Linked DNA regions of Homo sapiens. The protein of the gene in region 1 interacts with the protein of each later gene in a pairwise test. Each region holds a gene or a part of one and is shown in the gene's direction. Other genes may lie near its edges.

The links.
Region 2: the proteins of XRN1 (region 1) and PLEKHG2 interact in a two-hybrid assay, tested with the Homo sapiens proteins (one large-scale study listed by BioGRID).
Region 3: the proteins of XRN1 (region 1) and VWA5B2 interact in a two-hybrid assay, tested with the Homo sapiens proteins (one large-scale study listed by BioGRID and IntAct).
Region 4: the proteins of XRN1 (region 1) and TMEM50A interact in a two-hybrid assay, tested with the Homo sapiens proteins (one large-scale study listed by BioGRID).
Region 5: the proteins of XRN1 (region 1) and PRADC1 interact in a two-hybrid assay, tested with the Homo sapiens proteins (one large-scale study listed by BioGRID).
Region 6: the proteins of XRN1 (region 1) and C1GALT1 interact in a two-hybrid assay, tested with the Homo sapiens proteins (one large-scale study listed by BioGRID).

Annotation. Positions count from the first base shown.
Region 1 is NC_000003.12:142,441,285-142,445,185, reverse strand, and holds part of XRN1 (5'-3' exoribonuclease 1), read left to right. Parts: intron 1-3,901. UniProt on the Homo sapiens protein: Major 5'-3' exoribonuclease involved in mRNA decay. Required for the 5'-3'-processing of the G4 tetraplex-containing DNA and RNA substrates. The kinetic of hydrolysis is faster for G4 RNA tetraplex than for G4 DNA tetraplex and monomeric RNA tetraplex.
Region 2 is NC_000019.10:39,411,032-39,415,561, forward strand, and holds the start of PLEKHG2 (pleckstrin homology domain-containing family G member 2), read left to right. Parts: upstream 1-1,637; 5' UTR 1,638-2,381; intron 2,382-2,747; exon of another isoform or gene 2,748-2,860; intron 2,861-3,033; 5' UTR 3,034-3,055; coding exon 3,056-3,164; intron 3,165-3,960; coding exon 3,961-4,229; intron 4,230-4,307; coding exon 4,308-4,408; intron 4,409-4,530. UniProt on the Homo sapiens protein: May be a transforming oncogene with exchange activity for CDC42. May be a guanine-nucleotide exchange factor (GEF) for RAC1 and CDC42. Activated by the binding to subunits beta and gamma of the heterotrimeric guanine nucleotide-binding protein (G protein).
Region 3 is NC_000003.12:184,232,440-184,236,340, forward strand, and holds part of VWA5B2 (von Willebrand factor A domain-containing protein 5B2), read left to right. Parts: intron 1-738; coding exon 739-958; coding exon of another isoform or gene 959-970; exon of another isoform or gene 971-1,015; intron 1,016-1,136; coding exon 1,137-1,294; intron 1,295-1,826; coding exon 1,827-1,958; intron 1,959-2,191; coding exon 2,192-2,316; intron 2,317-2,713; coding exon 2,714-2,869; intron 2,870-3,712; coding exon 3,713-3,823; intron 3,824-3,901.
Region 4 is NC_000001.11:25,344,687-25,348,587, forward strand, and holds part of TMEM50A (transmembrane protein 50A), read left to right. Parts: intron 1-1,587; exon of another isoform or gene 1,588-1,691; intron 1,692-3,901.
Region 5 is NC_000002.12:73,227,189-73,230,319, reverse strand, and holds the end of PRADC1 (protease-associated domain-containing protein 1 precursor), read left to right. Parts: intron 1-106; coding exon 107-207; intron 208-749; coding exon 750-859; intron 860-1,357; coding exon 1,358-1,525; intron 1,526-1,745; coding exon 1,746-1,866; 3' UTR 1,867-2,310; downstream 2,311-3,131. UniProt on the Homo sapiens protein: Plays a role in the modulation of physical activity and adiposity.
Region 6 is NC_000007.14:7,230,850-7,234,750, forward strand, and holds part of C1GALT1 (glycoprotein-N-acetylgalactosamine 3-beta-galactosyltransferase 1), read left to right. Parts: intron 1-3,453; 5' UTR 3,454-3,470; coding exon 3,471-3,690; intron 3,691-3,712; exon of another isoform or gene 3,713-3,901. UniProt on the Homo sapiens protein: Glycosyltransferase that generates the core 1 O-glycan Gal-beta1-3GalNAc-alpha1-Ser/Thr (T antigen), which is a precursor for many extended O-glycans in glycoproteins.

The DNA of each region.
Region 1 (3,901 bases):
CCTCAAATAGAAGCAAGACGAGCAAATGATACCATTTGAGAAAACAATCGGCAGTGGAAAGATGAAATTTTAAAAAATAAAATAGATTTAAAAGATTCAAGAAAAAGTAACGATAAGAAAGATAGGCAAAGAAGACAAATAGTAGAGGTGCCTGAAAAAGAAAAAACCAAAGCAGCATAACAGAATGGGTACTCAGTAAATATTTTTTGAGTGAATTAATTTATTAGCTATAGCATATAGCATATAGAAATGCATATTAAAATAGACATGGTATATTAGTATGTTGTAAAACAGTATTTTTTAAAAAAGTGAAATGAAGCCTGGGATTATTATGATTATTTTTTTTTATGAAACATAGTGTATATACTTATGGGGTTCATGAGATGTTTTCGTACAGGCATGCAGTGTGTAATAATCATATCATGGAGAATGGAGTATCCATCCACTCAAGTATTTATCCTTTGTGTTAAAATCTAATTACACTCTTTTAGTTGTTTTTAAATTATTGCCTATCGTCACCCTGTTGTGCTATCACATAGTAGGTCTTATTCATTCTTTTTTTTTATTTTTTATTTTGGATACAAGGTCGCGCTCTGTCACCCCGGCTGGAGTACAGTGACGCAATCTCGGCTCACTGCAACCCCTGCCTCCCCGGTTCAAGCAAGTCTTGTGCCTTAGCCACCCAAGTAGCTGGGATTAGGCGTGTGCCACTACGCCTAGCTAATTTTTGTGTTCTTAGTAGACATGGAGTTTTGCCGTGTTGGCCAGGCTCTTCTCCAACTCCTGGTGGCCTCAAGTGATCCGCCCACCTCAGCCTCCCAAAGTCCTTGGATTATAGGCATGAGCCACCGTGCCTGGCCTGTGTTTTTTTGTTCTGTTTGTTTTAATTTAAATCTTTTTAAAAATAGAGATGGGTTTTTGCCATGTTGCCCACTCTGATCTTGAACTACTGGGCTCAAGTGATCTGCCCGCCTCGGCCTCCCAAAGTGCTGGGATTACAGGCGTGAGCCCCCGTGCCCAGACTAGGTCTTATTCGTTCTTTCAGTTTTTCTTTTATACCCATTAACCTTTCCCACCTCTCCCCTGACTCCCCGACTACCCTTCCCAGCCTCTAGGAACCATCTTTCTATTTTCTATGTCCATGAGTTCTATTGTTTTGATTTTTAGATTCCATAAATAAGTGAGAACATGCAATGTTTGTCTTTCTGTGCTGGACTTATTTTACTTGACATAATGAACTGCATTTCCACCCATGTGGTTGCAGATGGCAGGATCTCATTCCTTCTTGTGGCTGAATAGTACTCCATTGTGTATATACCACATTTTCTTTATCCATTCATTTGTTGATGGACGCTTAGGTTGCTTCCAAATCTTGGCTATTGTGAACAGTACAGCAACAAACAAAGGAGTGCAGATATCTGCGATATACTGATTTCCTCTCTTTGGGTTATATTAACACAGATAGCAGTGGGGTTGCTGGGATCATATGGTAGCTCTATTTTTAGTTTGTTTTTGTTTGTTTGTTTGTTTTTGCAGTTGCAAGATTTAATAGAGTGACATAGAGTGAAAACAGAGCTCCCATACAAAAGGAGGGGACCCGAAGGGGGTTGCTGTTGCCGGCTTGAATGCGTGGGTTTACATCCCGATCCTTGTCCCTCCCACTGTGCTGTCAGGCAGTAGATGATTGGCTATTTCTTTACCTCCTGTTTTGCCTAATTAGCATTTTAGTGAGCTCTCTGATTGATCAGGTGTGAGCTAAGTTGCAAGCCCCGTGTTTAAAGGTGGATGCGGTCACCTTCCCAGCTAGGCTTAGGGATTCTTAGTCGGCCTAGGAAATGTAGCTAGTCCTGTCTCTCAGTCCCCACTCTCAGCAGGAAAACCTAAGTGCTGTTGGGGAGGTTGGCCGATGACTGCTCTAACTGCTTCCTGCTGAATTGGCACGTAGTAGGGGTGGTGCAGTTGAGATTTCCTCGGGAGGGGTGCCTTTGATGTCATTAACATCAGCGCATGGGCTAACAGGCCGGTCCAGGGGTCCGCGGTAGATCTTAGTCATGGACTGCATCTGGGGCTCCATTTGAAGAACGATTTGTAGTTTTACAGCTTCGATTCTGGAAGAGACAAACTTAACAAGGAGGTTAAAGATACAGGGATTGGGCCGGGCGCGGTGGCTCACGCCTGTAATCCCAGCACTTTGGGAGGCCGAGGCGGGTGGATCACGAGGTCAGGAGATTGAGACCATCCTGGCTAACACGGTGAAACCCCGTCTCTACTAAAAATACAAAAAATTAGCCGGGCGTCGTGTTGGGCGCCCGTAGTCCCAGCTACTCAGGAGGCTGAGGCAGGAGAATGGCGTGAACCCAGGAGGCGGAGCTTGCAGTGAGGTGAGATCGCGCCACTGCACTCCAGCCTGGGCAACAGAGCGAGATTCCATCTCAAAATAAAAATAAAAATAAAAAGATACAGGGATTGAAATGTATGGCCTGCAGTGCAGATTATTTCTTTGGCACACTTTACAGGCCCTAACTATCTGCTTGATAGTTTTGAAAAGGCCTGGTCCAGTAAATAATAATTTGGCCATCTGATGGGTGCTATCAATGCCTAAGTGAAAGGTTTGGTGAAGGGTTTTAAGTAATTTCCATTGGTTAGCTGCAGGCAAAAGTATTTTTCTTTCTTCGGTGGCTAGCCATCCTGAGGGGAGGAAACTATGTCCTCGTGAGCTTCCCCATTCTATTTCTTCTTCTGAGTACTGGGGCTTGGTTTCCTGGAGGGGATTACCCCATACTAGGGGTCCTTCTATAAGCATTTCTAATGGAGGGTCCTGCCTTGCGGCTCTTTTGGCTTCAATATCCTCTTGGCGGTTCCTTTCTATTTCCCGTTCCTTTCTGATGACCCCGGCAGTGTAAGACTGCCACCTCTTTAGGTTTCTGTACAGCCAATAATAATTTCCTAATGGCTTCCTGATGTTTGATAGGTGTTCCCTCCAAAGTTAGGAATTCCCTTTCTCTCCATATTGCTGCATGGGCATGGAGGACTAGGTAAGCATATTTAGAGTCTGTATATATATTTACCCTTTTTCCTTCTCCTAATTCTAGTGCCCAAGTGAGGGCTATTAGTTTTGCCAGCTGAGCACTAGTTCCTGGAATGAGGGGATTATTTTCAAGTATTCCATTATCACTGACCACTGCATACCCTGCTTTTCAAAGTCCTTTTTCTATGAAGGACTTTTTGTATACGAATTCATTGTATGTATATGAATACGAATGAATTGTATACGAATTGTATGCGAATTCAGTATACAAATTGAGGTCAGGATCCGTCAAGGGAACCTCTGAAAGGTCCCCTCGAGCGGCTTAGGTTTGAGCAATTACTTGTTGACAGTTATGTTCTATCTTTTCTTCATTGTCTGGAAGAAATGTGGCTGGGTTAAGAGTTGCACAAGTGCACAGTCGCAACACTGGCCCTTCAAGTAATAGAGCCTGATATTTAAGTAAATGGTTGTCTGAGAGCCACAAGTCTCCTTTAGCAGTGAGTATACCATTCACATCATGAGGTGTCCACACAGTAAGATCTCTTCCCTGTATTATTTTAACTGCTTCAGATACTAAGACTGCAACTGCAGCCACTACCTATAAACAATGAAGCCAACCCTTTGCCACTACATCAGTTTTCTTACTCAGGTATGCCACGGTTGCAAGCTCGTCCCTCGGACCTGTGTAAGGACTCCTAGAGCTATTCCTGTTTTTTTGTGATATATAAAGAAAAGTCTTGCCCTATTGGCAAGCTTAACACTGGGGCTTGGGTTAGGGCCTTCTTTAGGGCCTGGAAAGCCACTTCTGCTTCAGGTGTCCATCTTACTAAATGGGTATTGGCTTTCTGAGTTTCCTTAATTAGTGTATATAAT
Region 2 (4,530 bases), on another chromosome or scaffold:
CAAATCCACACCCCAGTCCAACAGCAATCCTGTCTGATCCACCTGCAAAATAGATCCACTATCCACCTGCCCCCACCATGACCCCCACCCTGGTCCTAGCCAACATCGTCTGCCATTTGCATCTTCATAGCAGCCCCAGCCCCAGTCTCTGCTCTAGCCCCTGCCTTCAGTCTCTCCTTTCTCCACTCCCCCACGAGACAACCAAAGGAAGCCTGTTATGAGACCTGAGTCAGGTCACATAAAAGTCAAAGTCCGAAGTCCTCCCCACAGCCCACACAATCTGGCACCCATCGCTTACCCTCCCCCTTGGCCACTCTGCTCCAGCCACACTGGCCTCCTAGCTGCTCTACCAAGTCTGGTCTGCTTCATCCATAGGAGCTTTGCACTAGCTGTTCCCTCTGCCTGAACACTCCCCTGGTGTCCCCATGGCTCACTCCCCTCCTTCATGTCTCTGCTCAAAAGTTGCCTTCTCTGTGAGATCCTCCCTGACCACTGCTGTTGCAATCCACACCCCACCTCCAACTACCCCATCCTCCCTACCTTGCTCGACTTTTTCCATGACATTTATCATCACCACCTAACATTAAAATGTACTTAATTCTTATGTTGACAGCAATCTGCCTCCCCACTAGAATGTCGCGTCCTCAGGGGCAGGGACTACTTGTTCACTGCTGTATTACACACAGCTAAAGGAAGCCAGGCATAGTGAATGTTCAATATTTATTGAAAAAACAAGTCGACTCAAAAACATAGTTTTCCTTTTCAACAGAGGTCGAAAACTCCAAGACAGATAGCTATGTTCATCTGTAAAGGAGGCATTAAAAAGACAGAGAAATACAGAGGAGGCAGAGTCATATACAGTTTGCCGAGGACCCACATCTCTACAGAAGTCAAACTGTTTGCACACAATTCCATGCCCAGAGCATCTAATAAGAGACGATACCCCCACCTGGTGGCTGGGACGGAAACGGCACCTCCCTACAATACAGAACACCCAAAGGACCGTCGCCAAAGCCCTAGGAGTCTTTTGAGCCCAATAATTCAAAAGATAGAAACGTTCATTCATCTAAGTGATGTAGATGTTTTGGTTGGTTTATTAGATGTGTAAGTTTATAAAAACTGATGGGGAAAAAAAGTGCTCCAGGTGAGGATCGAACTCACAACCTCGGCATTGCTCCGCTCGCACTGTCATATAAGTACCGCGCGCTAACCGATTGCGCCACTGGAGCTCCGGCCGCACCCCTGCGCCGGGGTCTTCTTCAGTGGTTCATAGCCACGTGACCTCACCGGAGGGCCCCGCCTTGTGTTATATATGCAAATTAAACATTTTGCATTGACCAATAGGAGACAGTGCATTGCCAGTTCCGGATTCTCACGCCTCGCGGCCCTTGCTGTAAAAGGGAAAAGTCCGCGAGGCGTTTGGAATGTAGGGGTGTCGCCTACCAGAAGGACACGCCTCCTCATGAATATTCAAAACAAGGGGTGGGGTCTTAACCCTTCGCTGGCGGGTCGGCCGGAAGGCAGCCCCTCCCCCCCCCGCAGGCGGGAACAGGATGTGAGCCCCGGCGACAGCGGGGGAGGGGAAGCCCCGGGCGACCGCCCCCCGCCTCACAGCTGGGATCGGACTCTCCCGCCCCAGATGTGGCGCCGCCGCCGTCACACGAGCCCCGTGACACCCAGCCGGGAGCCCGAGGGGTCCAGAGGCTCGGACCCGGGCGTCCGGAATTTCTGCACCGCATCCTGAGAGACCCCGAGGTCCAGACCCCGGCGCCCAGGCTGGAGGACTTGAGCCATCCAGGTGCGCAGCGCCCCCTCCTGGAGCAGCCGGGAGCCCGGACGTCACCCCGCGAGACCCTGGAGGCCGAGCGCCCCGTATCCCCGTTTCAAGAACTCAGGATCCAGGACCGCAGACTCCCTCCAGGGCTCCGATCCCAAGACCCCGCGTTGGAGGAACTTGAGATCCGGACTTCTAAGCGCCCCAACCAGTTTCGGGCTGCAGCGGCCATCGCTTCAAGGGGACCCAGGACTTTGGGACCCCCCTGTGCTCCCACCTGGAGGGAGTTTCATTCCTGCCCCTAGAATTAGGGGAACTCAGAAATCCATCCCCCACCCCACGGCCCTACCTAGAAGACTTAGGAATGTGGGTCCCCAGCGCCGCCATCTGAGACTCCAGAGTCGAGGCTCCTAGCATCCCCTACGTAGAACACTGAGAAATTCCGACTGCGGGACCCCAGTCTCCGAGAGACCCCAGATTCTATTCCTGGAGCCTGAGAGCCCGAAGTTCACGCCCCTGAGTCTGGGCTCCGCACCTCCCTGGGGACCGCGTCGGGGTCGCGCAGGAGCCGGGCTGCCTCGAGCCGGGGCTGGAGGCTCCCCGGGAGGTGAGGGGGGAGGCGAGGGGCCCAGGCGGACTGGGGGAGGGGGCGGCGCCACTGCTGAACAATGAGGGGGCGTGCCGGCGGGGGGCGAGCCGAGGCGCCGGCGGGAGTTGGGGGCTGGAGGGGTGTGGGAAGGCGCTGGGGAGGCTGTGGCTGTGGGGACGGCGATCGGGGTTCGGAGAGACCGGCCGGAGGGGGTGCGAGGGCTCGGGGCCAGCGCCCCAGCGCGCAGCCCTCGGCGGGGGAGGGAGCCGTCTGCAGGACCCTGGCATCCGGTCCCCCAGCCTCCGCCCTCCCCTGGGACCCCGCGGCCTCCCGCCCACGGCTTTTCCCAGCCCTGCCCCTCGCCCTCCGCTCCAGCTGGAGCCCAAACGTTCCCAGGATCCCTAAGCCTCCGGCCCCAGACAAACGGGACTCGCAGCTTCTGCGCCTCCTGCTCCGCTCACTCTTCTTTGTCTCAGCCTTTCCATCTTTTTCGCCAGGTTCTCTCTCCTTGTCCCCTTCTTTCTGTCACTTTGTGCCTCCCCCATTAGTTACTCCCAGGGGCCCCTCCCTGGATTTACACCACGCTCCTAATTCCCAGCCCCCATCTGTGAGTCTGGGCGGCGGAGAGGCCCATGGGGTCCTGATATCCAAGAAGGGGCTCTTTCTGCAGGACTCTGCTGGGCCGCTCAGCCATGCCTGAGGGAGCCCAAGGACTGAGCCTCTCCAAACCTAGCCCAAGCCTCGGGTGTGGCCGAAGAGGTGAAGTGTGTGACTGTGGCACCGTGTGTGAGACTCGGACAGGTGAGCCTAGAGGCAGGGGCGGCGGAGCCTGTGGGGCTTTTATTCCTTGGCAATGCTGTCAAGGCAGGGTGATGGAGACAACCCCAGGCCAACTCGCACAAAGCTCCGAGTCTGGTGGGGAAGGCGGGCCCATCCCCAGGCAATGACAGGCCAGAGGGGGCAGCGCTGGGCAGAGTGGTCAGGGCTGTGATCGTGGATCCTCTGAGCTCGGAAGGTCAGGGGAAGGTTCCTGGAGGTGGGAACATCTCAACTGGGAAGTGGAAGATTAGGGGGAAGGAGTTGCGCAAAGACAAGGAAGAGTATTCTACATGCAAGGAACAGCATGTGCAAAGGCCCAGCGGTGAGAAAAGGCTGCATGTAAGTGACTGAAAGAAGTTGAGTGTCACTGGCATCCAGAGTGTAAGAAGAGGGGTGGCTGTGGGAAGAGAACTGGCTAGAGGGATCTGTGTTGGCCACATTGCCCAGTGCCCTGTGGATCTGAGGAGTTTGGACTTTATCCCCAGGGGCATGAAGGGGTTACACTCACGGGAGTAATACAGTCAGATAGACAAATTAATAAATGTCTACCTAGCTGATTCATGGAGGTGGATTAGAGAAATGGAGGCCAGAAGTCCAGAGAGGACCCTGATGGGAGAGGATGGGACTGGACCAAGACAGGGCAGTGGGGAGAGGAGGAAGGAGCCTGTGGGAAAGCTGTTGGACAGGTGTGGGTGAGGGTGTGGGCTGAACGCATGAAAGGCTGTGGAAGTCCGTGCATGGGGAGATTTCTCTGACCTCCTGTTCCACACCCCAGCAGCTCCTGCAGCCCCCACCATGGCCTCCCCCCGAGGTTCTGGGAGCTCCACATCCCTGAGCACAGTGGGCTCTGAGGGGGATCCAGCCCCTGGGCCCACTCCAGCCTGCTCAGCCTCCAGGCCAGAGCCCCTTCCAGGGCCTCCCATCCGCCTACATCTCTCTCCGGTGGGGATCCCAGGTTCAGCCAGACCCTCAAGGCTGGAGCGTGTGGCCCGGGAGATCGTGGAGACAGAACGGGCCTATGTCAGGGACCTCCGCAGCATCGTGGAGGTAAGGCGGGCAGACACCAGAGGGCAGTGGGTACCCAGGCCAGCCCCTTGGCCCCCATAACCCCAGTCATCCCAACAGGACTACCTGGGCCCTCTGCTGGACGGCGGGGTCCTGGGGCTGAGCGTGGAGCAGGTGGGCACGCTGTTTGCCAACATTGAGGACATCTACGAGTTCAGCAGGTCAGGGGCAGGGGGGACAGGCAGGGGGCATTGATTGGTTGGAGGGTCTATTTCCTAATCCAAACCTCGGAGCTTCGTAGTGTCCTGTCCAGGCTGGTACGTGGGGTTGTGACATTGGGCAA
Region 3 (3,901 bases), about 42 Mb from region 1:
TCAGTTATTCAGCAAGTATTTATTGAAAGGATGAACAATTGGTCATTGTGAGGAAGTGAGGTACAGTAGGGCTGTGAACGTGGGCTGGGGCCAGACCACGTCGGTGGTGTACACAGCTGCCACTGTACATGGCTGGTCATTATTCCTTTAGCAGCCCCACCAGTCCCCAAACAAACCTAGGAGCTAAATAAAACAGTGTGTGCAGTGTGCAAATGGAGCTTTATGTCCTCCAGCCTGCTTCCTGCTTCTCTATTCCTCCTGCCCGGGAGGAGTAGAGAATTCTGGAGCCACCTTAGTGGGCAATGGGGGAGCTCCTGATGGTTCAGGAGCAGGAAATTTATGAGCAGAGTGGGGTCCCAGGCCACAGGGAGATGTCTATCCACAAGGGATGGTGGCCAAGGGTTGAATGGAAAGAGGCAGGCAGGGGGAGAGGGGCAGAGGGTGTGGGTATTCCCAGGGCCTTGAGAGTGGACATGGCCCCTTCTCCTCAGCCTTCCATTAGCAAGGATGTCACTGCTGCTCTTGCCTGATGACAGCCAGATCTGTTCACAGTTAGTCTGCCTCTCCTGCCATCATTCATCTCATGCCTCCATCCTGCGTCACCAATGCATTAGCCTAGTGCCAACACGCAAAGTCCCCCTTGCCCAGGCTCCCTGACCCAATGCCTGCTTCCACATCTAGCTTCCTCCCTCTCCTCTGCTTCCAGCATGCTCTGACCCCATTTCTCACCCATCATAGGTCATCTTGTCTTGGATCTGGCCCAGGCCCGGTCCACGTTGGTGCTGCCCACAGGCATTATCGCCGCGGCTGGCACCATGACGGTGACCCTGCACAGCAGCCGGGAGCTGCCCTCAAGGCCTGACGGGGTGCTGCATGTGGCCCTGCCCACTGTGCTCACCCCGCTGGCCCCGCCAGGCCCGCCGGGGCCCCCCAGGCCTCCGGGGCTCTGTGACGACAGGTTGGGCCTATGGTGATTCTCTTCGTCCCTCCCTCGGCTTCTCTGGGTCTAGTGCGGGTGAGGGGGCACTGGCAGGGTACCCAGGGATGGGAAGGGTGAGGAAGGGCTGGGGCCAGTCAGCCGGAGGGTTTAGGGGCCTTCACAGTGGCCCAGTGACCCTCCTCATGCTCCCTTCCAGCCCCACCAGCTGCTTCGGGGTGGGCAGCCTTCAGGAGGAAGGGCTGGCCTGGGAGGAGCTGGCTGCCCCTCGGGACGTGTTCTCAGGCCCTGCCCGCTGCCCTGCCCCATATACCTTCTCCTTCGAGATGCTGGTGACTGGGCCATGCCTGCTTGCAGGTGGGTGCATCTGGCTGGCCTGCCCTCTTTTCAGATGCCCACTCCACCCAGTGTAGTGACTGGAAGGGAAATAAGGCTCAGGGATAGGAGGGACACAGGACAAAAAGACAGGGACCCCAGCCTCCGGAACATCTGGGTTAGTGGTGGGAGCATCCCCTGGTCACCTCTACCCAACACACACACCCCAATTTTATCAAGGTAATTTATTTATATCTCATCCCACCCAGCAGTGGGAAGAGAGATACTTACAATGGGACTAGTACCTGTGATGAAGTAGGTTTTCCTTACACAGAAGGTGGGGGGTGAATGCTAAATCAGCACCTGGCTGATGCATGACTCTTCGACCAGCCAGAAACCCTGCTGGAATCTACTTCCCAGCCCATGAAAGCAGGCACATCCTCCCTCGTCCATCTGACCCCATATAGATCAGACTCTGAGAGCTGACTGAATCAGCCATGACCCCTGCCAACATTTGCTGTCCCTGGGAAGGTGTTATGGCTACATCTCCCCTTCCTGCCTCTATGTCCCTCAGGCCTGGAGAGCCCCTCTCATGCTCTGCGGGCAGATGCCCCCCCTCATGCCAGCTCTGCAGCCACCATCTGTGTCACACTGGCAGAGGGCCACCACTGTGACCGGGCCTTGGAGATCCTGCTGCACCCCAGTGGTGAGAGACTGGGACACACCGTGGGCCGGCTCTGACCTGCTTCTACATGAATGGGGGAAGCATTTCTTAAGTGCAGGTTTCTGGGCCCCAGCCAGATGGACTGAGTCATCTGTGAGGGCAGAGCCTGTGGTGCAGGAAGGCTGGACCTGCAGGCTCCTCCTGGACAGTGAAACTGGGCACTTGGGGTCCAGAGGCAGGGCCTTCCTTGACAGAATTGTGTCCTCTCCTCTCAGAGCCCCATCAGCCACACCTGATGCTGGAGGGCGGCAGCCTGAGCTCAGCAGAATATGAGGCCCGGGTGAGGGCCCGCCGAGATTTTCAGAGGCTACAGCGAAGGGACAGTGATGGGGACCGGCAGGTACCGCCATAGGAGCCTGGCCTGGCCCCTGGCCTTGGCTGCATTTGTGCACAAGGAGCAGGCAAGCAGGCTTACATTGGAATGGGTGCGGGGAGGCCTCTTTTCTCGGTAAGATCTCTCCACAGCTGCCACCAACCATCACAGAGGACAGATGAGTATTGTCATTGGAGGGCCGATGTGAATCTCTCTGGGGTGTGTCTCAGAGGATGGAGGCTAGGTCTGATATAAACAGAAGACAGCCACCTGCCTTTGCTCCTGCCTTTATTCGAATTACTACAAAAAGATGTCCCCTCTGGGTGGATCAGACAGAAAAAGGCCCCAGAGCCAGTCCCACTGCCCACCCTCAACAAAGTAGCACTAAGCCTTGCCCAGGCTGACTTGGGACTCCCCCGCTCAGGTGTGGTTCCTGCAGCGACGCTTCCACAAGGACATCCTGCTGAACCCCGTGCTGGCGCTGAGCTTCTGCCCAGACCTGAGCTCCAAGCCCGGACACCTGGGGACAGCTACTCGGGAGCTACTCTTCCTTTTGGATAGCAGCAGCGTGGCACACAAGGCCCGTGGGGGTGTGGTGTGGGCAGGCCTGGGGGTTGGGTGGGGCAGTGGGTCTGAGGAGGGCTGGGGGCAGCCTCTTGAAGCCAGGAGTTACCTTGTTGCTTCAAACACCATCTTCCAAAGAGGAAGCAGATGGCAACTCCTCAGGGGATTCCCTTAGACAGCAGCCCTGCTCCAACCGCCAAACAGACACTGTCACGCTCTCTTGCTCATATTCACGCACACACATCTCTCCAGGATTCCAAGAGCCTCTCACACATAGACTCGCACTCAGTCACAGGGAGTCACTCCAATCACAGGGACACTCAAGTTTCATGTGTACCTCCAGAGTCCCACACACAGCCATGTGTACCTCCAGAGTCCCACACACAGCCATGTGTACCTCCAGAGTCCCACACACAGCCATGTGTACCTCCAGAGTCCCACACACAGCCATGTGTACCTCCAGAGTCCCACACACAGCCATGTACACCTCCAGAGTCCCACACACAGTCATGTGTACTTCCAGAGTCCCACACAGTCAGGTATACCTCCAGAGTCCCACACACAGTCATGTACACCTCCAGAGTCCCACACACAGTCATGTATACCTCCAGAGTCCCACACAGTCATGTATACCTCCAGAGTCCCACACACAGTCATGTGTACCTCCAGAGTCCCACACAGTCTCTCACACACACTTGGGGGCTCACTGGCACACTTTCCCTCACACCCAGGGCCTCTCCCAGGTTACCACAGCCTCTCACTTGAATCACAGCCTGGATAACGCAGTGATCTGGCTTCCCTTGCTCTGTATCAGGGCCCATGGGGCCGGCCTCACGCCGCCCTCCCTGGCCCTCCACAGGATGCCATTGTTTTGGCTGTGAAGTCCCTCCCGCCCCAGACGCTTATCAACCTGGCCGTGTTTGGGACGTTGGTGCAGCCACTCTTCCCAGAGAGCCGGCCTTGCAGTGATGTGAGTGTGGTCCAGGGATCTGGGGGCCTTACAGAGAGGTTTCAGCCCAGTGCGTCCCAGCCTGTGCCTTCTCGCTCC
Region 4 (3,901 bases), on another chromosome or scaffold:
GAGTTTCTGATTGTTTTTTTTTGTTTTTTGTTTTTTGTTTTTTTTTGGTGGTTGTTGGTAGAAAGAATGTATATTTTCTTTAGGATTCATTTTATTCTTCTTGAATGCTGCAGTTCTAATTTGGACAGTTACTATGTGGAATGTAGTAGCCTTGTTCAGTTTTTTGTTTTTCCTAGAGTTTCTAGCTGCCTTTTCTTTGTTTTCTTGCATTTTCTACTATTATCACATCTTTATTTTTTTCCCAAATTCTCAATTATATTCTTTAATGTATTATAACTTCTTTTGTTTTAGAAATCAACATCCCAGAAGCCCGTATCTGTCTGTTTCATTATGAATTAATGACTGTGTAAGCCTGCTGCAGCACTGTCACCATGGGACTTCCCTCCCCTGTTGATCAGGGTTGAATCCACTGTTTTTCCAGTTACCACATCTTCTTTTTTTTTTTTTTTTTTTTGGATACAAGAAGTATTTACTTTGGCCGGGCATGGTGGCTCACGCCTGTAATCCCAACACTTTGGGAGGCCAAGGCGGGCAGACCACCTGAGGTGAGGAATTTGAGACCAGCCTGGCCAACGTGGTGAAACCCCATCTCTACTAAAAATAATTTAAAAAGGCTGGGCGCAATGGCTCACGCCTGTAATCCCAGCACTTTGGGAGGCCGAGGCAGGCAGATCACGAAGTCAGGAGATCGAGACCATCCTGGCTAACACAGTGAAACCCTGTCTCTACTAAAAATACAAAACATTAGCCGGCTATAGTGGCACGTGACTGTGGTCCCAGCTACTCGGGAGGCTGAGGCAGGAGAATCGCTTGAACCCAGGAGGCGGAGGTTGCAGTGAGCAGAGATCATGCCACTACACTCCAGCCTGGGCGACAGAGTGAGACTCTGTCTCAAAAACTAAAAAATAAATTAGCCAGGCACGGTGTTGCGTGCCTGTAGTCCCAGCTACTCGGGAGCCTGAGGCACAAGAATCACTTGAACCTGGGCAGCAGAGGTTGCTGTGAGCCGAGATCACACCACTGCACTCCAGCCTGGGCGACAGAGGGAGACTCCGTCTCAATAAATTTAAAAGAAAAAAGTATTTATTTTAGTTTGTTTATTTATTTATTTTTTTTTTTGAGATGGAGTTTTGCTCTGTCGCCCAGGCTGGAGTGCAATGGCATGATCTCTGCTCACTGCAACCTCCACCTCCCAGGCTCAATTGATTCTCCTGCATCAGCCTCCCCAAGTAGCTGGGATTACAGGCACACACCACCATGCCTGGCTGGTGTTTGTATTTTCTGTAGAGACGGGTTTCACCATGTTGGCCAGGCTGGTCTTGAACTCCTGACCTCAAGTGATCCACCTGTCTCGGCCTCCCAAAGTGCTGGGATTACAGGCGTGAGCCACCACACCCGGCCGATATGTTTTCTTAGAATTCTCATCTCTTTATCTTTTTATTTTATGTTCCAATCTGTTAAACATTTTTGCATTTCAGTTCTCATGTTTTAATTTCTAAGGGCCTTTGTTTCCTTAATTATGAATGCTTCCTTTAGGGATCAACTCTCTCTGTGGGCCTTTCTTTTTTTTCTTTTCTTTTCTTTTCATGTTAGACGTGTAAGGTGCTGATGTAAGAACAAGGTTTGAGGGAGGCACATCTCAAACATGCACATGAACACCCAATCATCGTGCCTAAGAACTACAAAAGAATCAGGTTTTCCTTTTAAATTAAAAAAAAAATGTTTTAGAAGTAGGGCCTCGCTTGTCACCCAGGCTGGAGTGCAAATGGTGTGATCATAACACACTACTGTCTCAAAATCCTGGGCTTAAGCAGTCCTCTGGCCTCAGCCTCCCCAGTAGCTAGGACTACTTGCACATACCACCACACCCAGCTATTTTTTAAACAGTTTTTTTGTAAAGACAGGATCTCACTATGTTGCCCAGGCTGTTCTTGAACTCCTGGTCTCAAGTGATTCTCCTGCCTTGGCCTCCGAGAGTGCTGCATGATAGGTGTGAGTCACTGTGCTCTCTGCCTTTATTATTTTAAAAATGTAATATAAAATGCATTCTGGCCAGGCATGGTGGCTCACACTTGTAATCCCAGCACTTTGGGAGGCCAAAGTGGGCGGATCACTTGAGGTCAGGAGTTCAAGACCAGCCTGGCCAACATGGTGAAACCCTGTCTCTACAAAAAAATACAAAAATCAGCCGGGCATGGTGGTGCATGCCTGTGGTCCCAGCTACTGAGGAGGCTGAGGTGGGGAATCACTTGAATCTGAGAGGCAGAGATTACAGTGAGCCAAGATCACGGCACTGGATTCCAGCCCAGGAGACAGAGTGAGACTCTGTCTCAAAACAAACAAACAAACAAAAAACGCATTTAGTGAGATACATAAAGTGCACAAGTCATATATACATCTCAACAAATTTTTCTTATATATACACCCATGTAAACAGCATCTAGATCAAGATTTAAAACATCACCCCAGAACATTCTCAATCAGCACTTCCATCACACCTGTATAGCCCCCATCCTGACCTCTACCATTGTCCATCAGCTTTCTGTAGACCTTTTTTTTTTTCTTTTGAGATAGGCTCTTGCTCTGTTGCCCAGGCTGGAGTGCAGTGGCATGATCTCGGTTCACTGCAACCTCTGCCTCCTGAATTCAAGCAATTTTCCTGCCTCAGCCTCCTGAGTAACTGGGATTACAGACGCCCACCACTGTGCCCAGCTAATTTTTGTATTTTTAGTAGAGGAAGGGTTTCACCATGTTGGCCAGGCTGGTCTCGAACTCCTGACCTCTCAGGTGATCCACCTGCCTTGGCCTCCCAAAGTGCTGGGATGACAAGCGTGAGCCACCATGCCCGGCCTTCTGTAGACTTTTAATTTAGGTTGTAGAGTCATCTCATACAGGCTTCCAGGTAATCCAAGTTGAAAATTACACACATTTTTAAATTTTGCTACAGTTACTTAAGTGTAAACACAGTAACTTGTATTTTCAGAGTAAAGCAAGTGGCTAAGGGCAGCCAGTTTGACTGTGCCTGGCATGGAGTCAGTGCCAGAGTAGTTATTCATTCGCAGAAGTAAAGGTCTGACTTCAGAAGCCACTGATAGCAAAGGGCTGTGGTCTTTTTCTTTGAAGTTCAGCCAGTATGCAGCTATTTCTAGTTCTTTCCATCTTGTTGCAATTTATTTTACCGTAATAATGATGCTGTTAGAATTCTTTTAGAAAGCTGACACCTAAATTTCAACATTGGTTTAGATTTAAAAGTTTTATTTTTGTGATTGTATTTTTGTCCTGCTTTTGTTCTCAGATCTTTAAAAAATTATTTTGTTCCATTTTGAAGCAGTAGCAAGTCTGACTATGGAGGGGAATTATAGCTGTATATGAGCTTGAATGTACTATTCAAACGTGTTTCCTGCTAAACTTACATTCTGTTGCATTAACATAATTATAGCAGAGCTGACTTCATGTCTTTATAAATGTTTATCATCTATTTGGCTTCAGTTTACATCTTTTTATTATAGTGTCAGATAGTGTCAGGCCATAATTTTAAACAAAAACTGTTAGTTAATTATAATTCAAATGGATAGGAGTCAAAAAGCAGCTATTCTTTCATTAATGACTTTATTATTTTTTCTCTTATTACAAAAGTTCTCTGATTTTGTGGCTTTAAAAATATTAATAAATGTTCTGTGTATTACTCTGTATTTTTTAATTTTAAAAATGTAGGGTAGGCCGGGCACGGTGGCTCACGCCTGTAATCCCAGCACTTTGGGAGGCCGAGGTGGAAGGATCTCGAGGTCAGGAGATCGAGACCATCCTGGCCAACATGATGAAGCCCCGTCTCTACTAAAATACAAAAAATTAGCTGGGTGTGGTGACACGCGCCTGTGGTCCTAGCTACTCAGGAGGCTGA
Region 5 (3,131 bases), on another chromosome or scaffold:
CTGAGCCCAGACTATAGCCAGCCCAGCTGAAGACACAGGGTCTGGGATCTGAACCTGAACCAGCTTGTTCCTGGGAGGCTTCTTACCTGTACTCTTTATCCTTCAGGCTTCCGTATCCATGATTATTTGTACTTTCAAGTGCTGAGTCCTGGGGACATTCGATACATCTTCACAGCCACACCTGCCAAGGACTTTGGTGGTATCTTTGTAAGTTAAGGGAGGCCCCTGATCTCTGATCCTCAACCTCCCCCTTCCCCTCACTGAGCTGCAGTGACCCTCTCATCCCACCTGAGTGCTGGGACAGGGAAGGGAGCAGAATCAGCTCTGCCTTCCATGAGCTGCAGCACAGAAAGGAAGCTCTTCCAGCTACTCCCCTGAGTATAATATAAACCTAGGCACCATGGAGGGACAAGTTGTCTTTTTAGGGGACATGAAGTGAAAAGCCAAGAGCACCAGCTTCCTCTGCCAGCTCTACCTGTGAACTATGTGACTTAAGGCACATCACTTCCTCTCTCTGGATCTACAACCAAGTCCCCTGCCTATCTCATAGAAGGGTAGGGTGGTGTAGGACAACCAGATAGGCCTTTGCGAGAATTAAGTAAAAATGTTTAAGTGTCTGGCGATACAGAAACCACTCCATGTTTCCTTCACACTTTATAAGGTGCCAATAAGATGGGATTGTCAGCCCAGTCCTAAAGCAGGTGTGTCTCATTACACTCTCACCTGTCCAAATGTTAAATGTTTTTCAGCACACAAGGTATGAGCAGATTCACCTTGTCCCCGCTGAACCTCCAGAGGCCTGCGGGGAACTCAGCAACGGTTTCTTCATCCAGGACCAGATTGCTCTGGTGGAGAGGGGGTAAGGAGTGGGCAGGCAGGACACGAGGAGTGGGCAGGCATACGGCAGATTCTGAGATTATTGGTAGTAGTGCTTTGAAAGAGCTGTTTTTGAAAATTTCATCTTTTTAAGCGTCTTTAAGAAATGTCTAGCCTGGGCAACATGGAGAAACCCTGTCTGTACAAAAAATACAAAAATTAGCTGGGCATGGTGGTGCACACCTGTGGTCCCAGCTACTCGAGGCTGAGGTGAGAGGATTGCTTGACCGCATGTTAAGGCTGCAGTGAGCCGAGATCACGTCACTGCACTCCAGCCTGGGCAACAGAGCAAAACCCAGTCTCCAAAAAAAAAGAAAAAGGAAAAAGAAATGTATTTAAATTATCCATGCTTTTAGCTATTTACTTATGAGCCTTTATAACAGATTCTTCATAGTCTGCCTTCTATACTCCCAGGGTGATGGTCTGGGGAAGGGGGAGCTAGGACCTGTCTTTCCTTTGGTCTTATCACCACCTCTTCCAGGGGCTGCTCCTTCCTCTCCAAGACTCGGGTGGTCCAGGAGCACGGCGGGCGGGCGGTGATCATCTCTGACAACGCAGTTGACAATGACAGCTTCTACGTGGAGATGATCCAGGACAGTACCCAGCGCACAGCTGACATCCCCGCCCTCTTCCTGCTCGGCCGAGACGGGTGAGGGCTCCTTGCCTCTGGCTTTATCAGCACCAGGCTGGGCGCCATGACTGGGTCAGGGGTAATCACCAGTCCCTTCTTGCAGGCCTCAACTTGGGGTGCTTCAGTTAGAGGGCAAAAAAAGATCTCGGGCTTTGGAACTCCCAGATTGATGGGGACAGTGGGGCATGATGGGGTACCAAGAAAGTGACCGTCACCACCTCTCTTCATGCCCTCCCAGCTACATGATCCGCCGCTCTCTGGAACAGCATGGGCTGCCATGGGCCATCATTTCCATCCCAGTCAATGTCACCAGCATCCCCACCTTTGAGCTGCTGCAACCGCCCTGGACCTTCTGGTAGAAGAGTTTGTCCCACATTCCAGCCATAAGTGACTCTGAGCTGGGAAGGGGAAACCCAGGAATTTTGCTACTTGGAATTTGGAGATAGCATCTGGGGACAAGTGGAGCCAGGTAGAGGAAAAGGGTTTGGGCGTTGCTAGGCTGAAAGGGAAGCCACACCACTGGCCTTCCCTTCCCCAGGGCCCCCAAGGGTGTCTCATGCTACAAGAAGAGGCAAGAGACAGGCCCCAGGGCTTCTGGCTAGAACCCGAAACAAAAGGAGCTGAAGGCAGGTGGCCTGAGAGCCATCTGTGACCTGTCACACTCACCTGGCTCCAGCCTCCCCTACCCAGGGTCTCTGCACAGTGACCTTCACAGCAGTTGTTGGAGTGGTTTAAAGAGCTGGTGTTTGGGGACTCAATAAACCCTCACTGACTTTTTAGCAATAAAGCTTCTCATCAGGGTTGCAACTGTGTCCTAGAATAAGAGCACACGGGTGGGCAGGACCTTCAAACTCACTCGTATCGTCCCATACTGTCGTTCTGAGGAAAGGAAACACCCACAGAGGACAGTGACTGGCCTAGGTCATTTGGGACCAGTGCTCAGACTGCTAGTCTTAGATCCCAGCACAGCTTCCTGCTAGGAGCCAAGGAAGCCCTGGGAAGCCAGAGTTCAGCCCCTCAGGAGAAGACTCATCTTAGAGCCTGGAACTGGGGGTCCAAACTGGACCTCAGGGCTAGGCATGGTGGCCCATGCCTGTAATCCCAGCACTTTGGGAGGCCGAGGTGGGAGGATCAGTTGAGGCCAAGAATTCAAGACCAGCCTTGGCAACAACATAGCAAGATCCCATCTCTACAGAAAAATTAAAAATTAGCTGGGTGTGGTGGTGTGAGCCTATAGTCCCAGCTACTCAGGAGGCGGAGGTGGGAGGATCACTTGGGCCCAGAAGTTCAAGGCTGTAGTGAGCTATGATTGCATTGCTGCATGCCAGCCTGGGTGACAAGGTGAGACCCTGTCTCAAAATTTAAAAACCACCCAAACTGGACCTCAGAGGACCCTTGCTCTTGGGCATTAGAACATTTGCATAGCAGGGTGTAAATAACAGTAGAGGTGAGCCCAAGCTGGTGAGCCTGGAGCTCCCATCTCCTACCATTACCTGGTCTAATTGGTATTCCTTTGCACCCACCTGTGCCTGCTGCACGCCCGGGGCAGCCTGCCCAGCCACTTGCCACAAAGCATTCCTGCAGAGGCCTCTCACCACTCACATTTTATTGAGAACAGTGGGCA
Region 6 (3,901 bases), on another chromosome or scaffold:
TGATGCCAGTTTTGTAATTTGTTTTAATGGTAATAATACTAATATCTTGTGAGACTTTCAAAAAATGTTTTATTATAGCCAATATTTATTTGGATTTACTTACATACATACCCTTTTTATGACTCTCCCTTCCTTCCTACATCTCTGAATTTTTATCTGAAATTCTTTTCCTTCTGCCTGAAGAATTAGAAATAGAACTGTTAGTGATAAATTCACTTAGGTTTTGTTTTTCTGAACATGTTTTTAAGGCTCATTCTTGAAGGACATTTTTGCTGGATACAGAATGCTAGGTTGGTAGTTCTGTTCTTTTAGCACTTTAAAAATAGTTCACTGCAGTCTTGATTCTGTTGTTGCTGCTAAAAAGTCAGCTGTCAATCTTATTACACCTTTGAAGTTTTTTTTTCTGTCCTTGGTTTTCAGTAGTTTGACTGATGTACTTAGGTAACATTTTCTTTTTCTTTGTAATCTTCATTGGGTTTTGTAGATTTTTAATGTGAGGGTTGGTACTGTGTCAGTTTCGGAAAATATTCAGTCATTATTTCTTTAAATACCACTTCTCCTGAGTTATGTCTCTTCCCTCAAAGGTTCCAGTTAACACTTACATTAGACCCTTTCACTTTATTCTGTTTTTTTGCTCAATTCTTTTTCAATCCATTTGTTTTTCCATACTTCATTCTGCGTATTTTCTTCTGACCTAGCTTTTTAGGTTATTAATTTTTTTCTTCAGCTGTGACTATTCTATGCCTAATTTCTTAATCTTGCCATTTAATTTCTTGACTTTATTAAGAATAGTTATTTCTAAGCTAAAAATATGAAAATCTTATTTGAGTCTTTTGGCTCTGTTTCTATTGTCTACTTTTTTGTGTTTAGCCGTAATTTTCATCTTGATGCCTGGTTGTTTTGGACATTGTGTATCAAAATTTTGTCCATGTTGTATACCAAAAAAAAAAAAGTCGTCATGATAATTTGAGGTTCTTCATGATTTTATATTTCTCCAGGAGAATATTTTTACAGTTAGGCTAGGGCGGATCATCCAGTCAGTGGCTGAGATGACTCTAACGTAGACTTCAGCCGTTGTAAAGATTGGTCTATTTTTGTTTTGTTCTTATTCTCAGATTGTAGCCTTTCAGAGTCCTTGATAAGAGCATAGGTGTTTTTCAGGACCTCTTCTCCTAAGCAGACTTTGGACATTAATTTTTGCTTAGCTTTATTGCCCTTGCTGTTTTCTCTTTCAGAATCAGTCATTGTCTTGAGGATAGAGCAGTGCCAGATGTCTGGTCTGCCTCTTTCCTTCCTTCTTCCAGATTTTGGCCCTACTAATTCTCACTGCCTTGATATCTTACCAGTGTCTTCAAACACATATTTATATTTTTTTACATTTTGTTCAGTTTTTCTGATTGCACTTGGTTGTACTAAAAGAACCTAGTCAGCCATTCCAGAAATACATGAAGTTGTTTTGTTTTTATTATTGTAGTGGTGATTGTTGGTTTGTACTTTTGCTTTCACAAACTATTTCAAAGCAATTTTGATTTTTAGGGTTATATTTCCCAGACCTCTACTTTCACTGCCCATTGCCCTCTGCTGTTAGTGGTGATTAGGTGAAGAGTTTGAGAAATGTAATGGAAAGGGCGTGGGTTTTTTTTTTTTGTTTTTTTTTTTTTGAGACAGAGTCTTGCTCTGTCACCCAGGCTGTAATACAGTGGCATGATCTCGGTCCTGCAGTCCTGCCTCCCAGGTTCTAGTGATTCTTTTGCCTCAGTCTCCCAGGTAGCTGGGATTACAGGCACGTACCACAACGCCTGGCTAATTTTTGTATTTTTAGTAGAGATGGGGTTTCACCATGTTGGCCAGGCTGGTCTTGAACTCCTGACCTCAGGTGATCCACCCGCCTTGGCCTCCCAAAGTGCTAGGATTACAGGCGTGAGCCACCACGCCCAGCCGGGCATGGGCTTTTTAAGCACACAGACCTACATTCAAACTGTGGCTCCTTCTGATTGTGTCAGCCTATATGAATTAATTACCTGTTTAAAATTACCTTTTTAAAATTTCTCTTTCCTCATCTGCAGACGGGTTTAGTGAGAATGAAAAAGGACATTGAAATTAAATTTTATTTAAAATGAAATAATGTATGGACAGCTTCTGGTATATAATAAATGCTTAGTAAACTTATTTTTTTAATTATCTTGAGGAATAGGAAACTAGAGTTAAGACCAATCTTTTAAGGAATTTAATAGAAGTTTATAACTTCACCATATAGTAATTGTTAACAAAAGCTTAAAAAGGGCGTTTATGTCAATGTTTGGTTGTGGGGCAGTTCAACAGGCATCTGTGTCCCAGGTACCCTACTTAATCTCGTTAATATTATAGATTCCATCCAAAATCTAGATCTTGCAGTATAGAGCAGAGGTCAGCAAACTTTTTCTTTTTTTTTTCTGAGATAGTTTCACTCTTTTGCCCAGGCTGGAGTTGAGTGGTGCAGTCTTGGCACACTGCAACCTCCGCCTTCTGAGTTCAAGTGATTCTCCCACCTTATTCTTACCAATTCTTCCCAAGTATTCACCTTATTCTTCCCAAGTAGCTGTGACTGCAGGCATATGCCACCATGCCCAGCTAATTTTTTACCATGTTGTCCAGGCTGGTCTCAAGCTCCTGACTTCAAGTGATCCACCCGCCTTGGCCTCCCAGAGTGCTGGGATTACAGGCATGAGCCACTGTGCCTAGCCAGCAAACTTTTTCTATAAAGGGCTAGGTACGGTTTTGTGAGACATATTGCCTCTATTGTAGCTATTCACTCTGCTGTTTTAGGGCAAAAGTAGCCGCAGTCAGTATATAAATGAATGGGCATGGGTGTGTTCAAATAAAACTCTATTTACAAAAACAGGTAGCAGGCCAGGTTTGGTCCATGGGTCCTCAAACTGTGCTGACCCTAGTCCTCCACAAGCTACAAGTGTTTTTTTACGTTTATAAAGGATTGTTTAAGAAGAAGATGCAACAGAAACCACATGAGACCCAAAAAGCCAAAAATATTTTATTTCTAGTTCTTTACAGAAAGGGTTTGCTAACTTTTGGGTTGGAGAAGGGGTGGTGGTTGCTACCAGAGAAAAAGAAGTAGACTTCCGTACTCAGAGTTAACAGCAAAGAAAGAAAAACAACACGACAGGAAGCCCTGGATCCACAAAGGATCCTGGTGGGAAGAATAGGAAATTCTGTGTGCAATACTGACATACTCATCCATACCCCACCCCAACTGTGACTGTCCTACTAATTAATCTGGTTTTATGGATTTTCCATAATGTGCTGTTTTAGCAGCAAATAGAGGGGTAAACTCATAGATAATAGCTAAATACTGTTAGAAATTAACTTTCCGTTATAGCTAAATGTTACCAGAATTTTTACTCCGGTTATGTATACAGCTTTGATTTTATAACATCCTGCTAATTTTTGTTCTTACAGAAATACACTTTCGGGAAATGGCCTCTAAATCCTGGCTGAATTTTTTAACCTTCCTCTGTGGATCAGCAATAGGATTTCTTTTATGTTCTCAGCTATTTAGTATTTTGTTGGGAGAAAAGGTTGACACCCAGCCTAATGTTCTTCATAATGATCCTCATGCAAGGCATTCAGATGATAATGGACAGAATCATCTAGAAGGACAAATGAACTTCAATGCAGATTCTAGCCAACATAAAGGTATGGTTTACTTTATTAAGCAGTAAACATAAGCAGTATTTTAGTCTAAATTTTGTCATATTCCTGTCTGTATCTGTTAATTAAAATGGGCTATATATTCCAGATATTAAAAATAATTCTTGGTTTGCCTCAAGAGAAGGGAATTGCTAAAACTCAGATTTATTTAGGGAATAAGATATTAATTTTGAATTCGTTTTTAAGTAGAAATAGT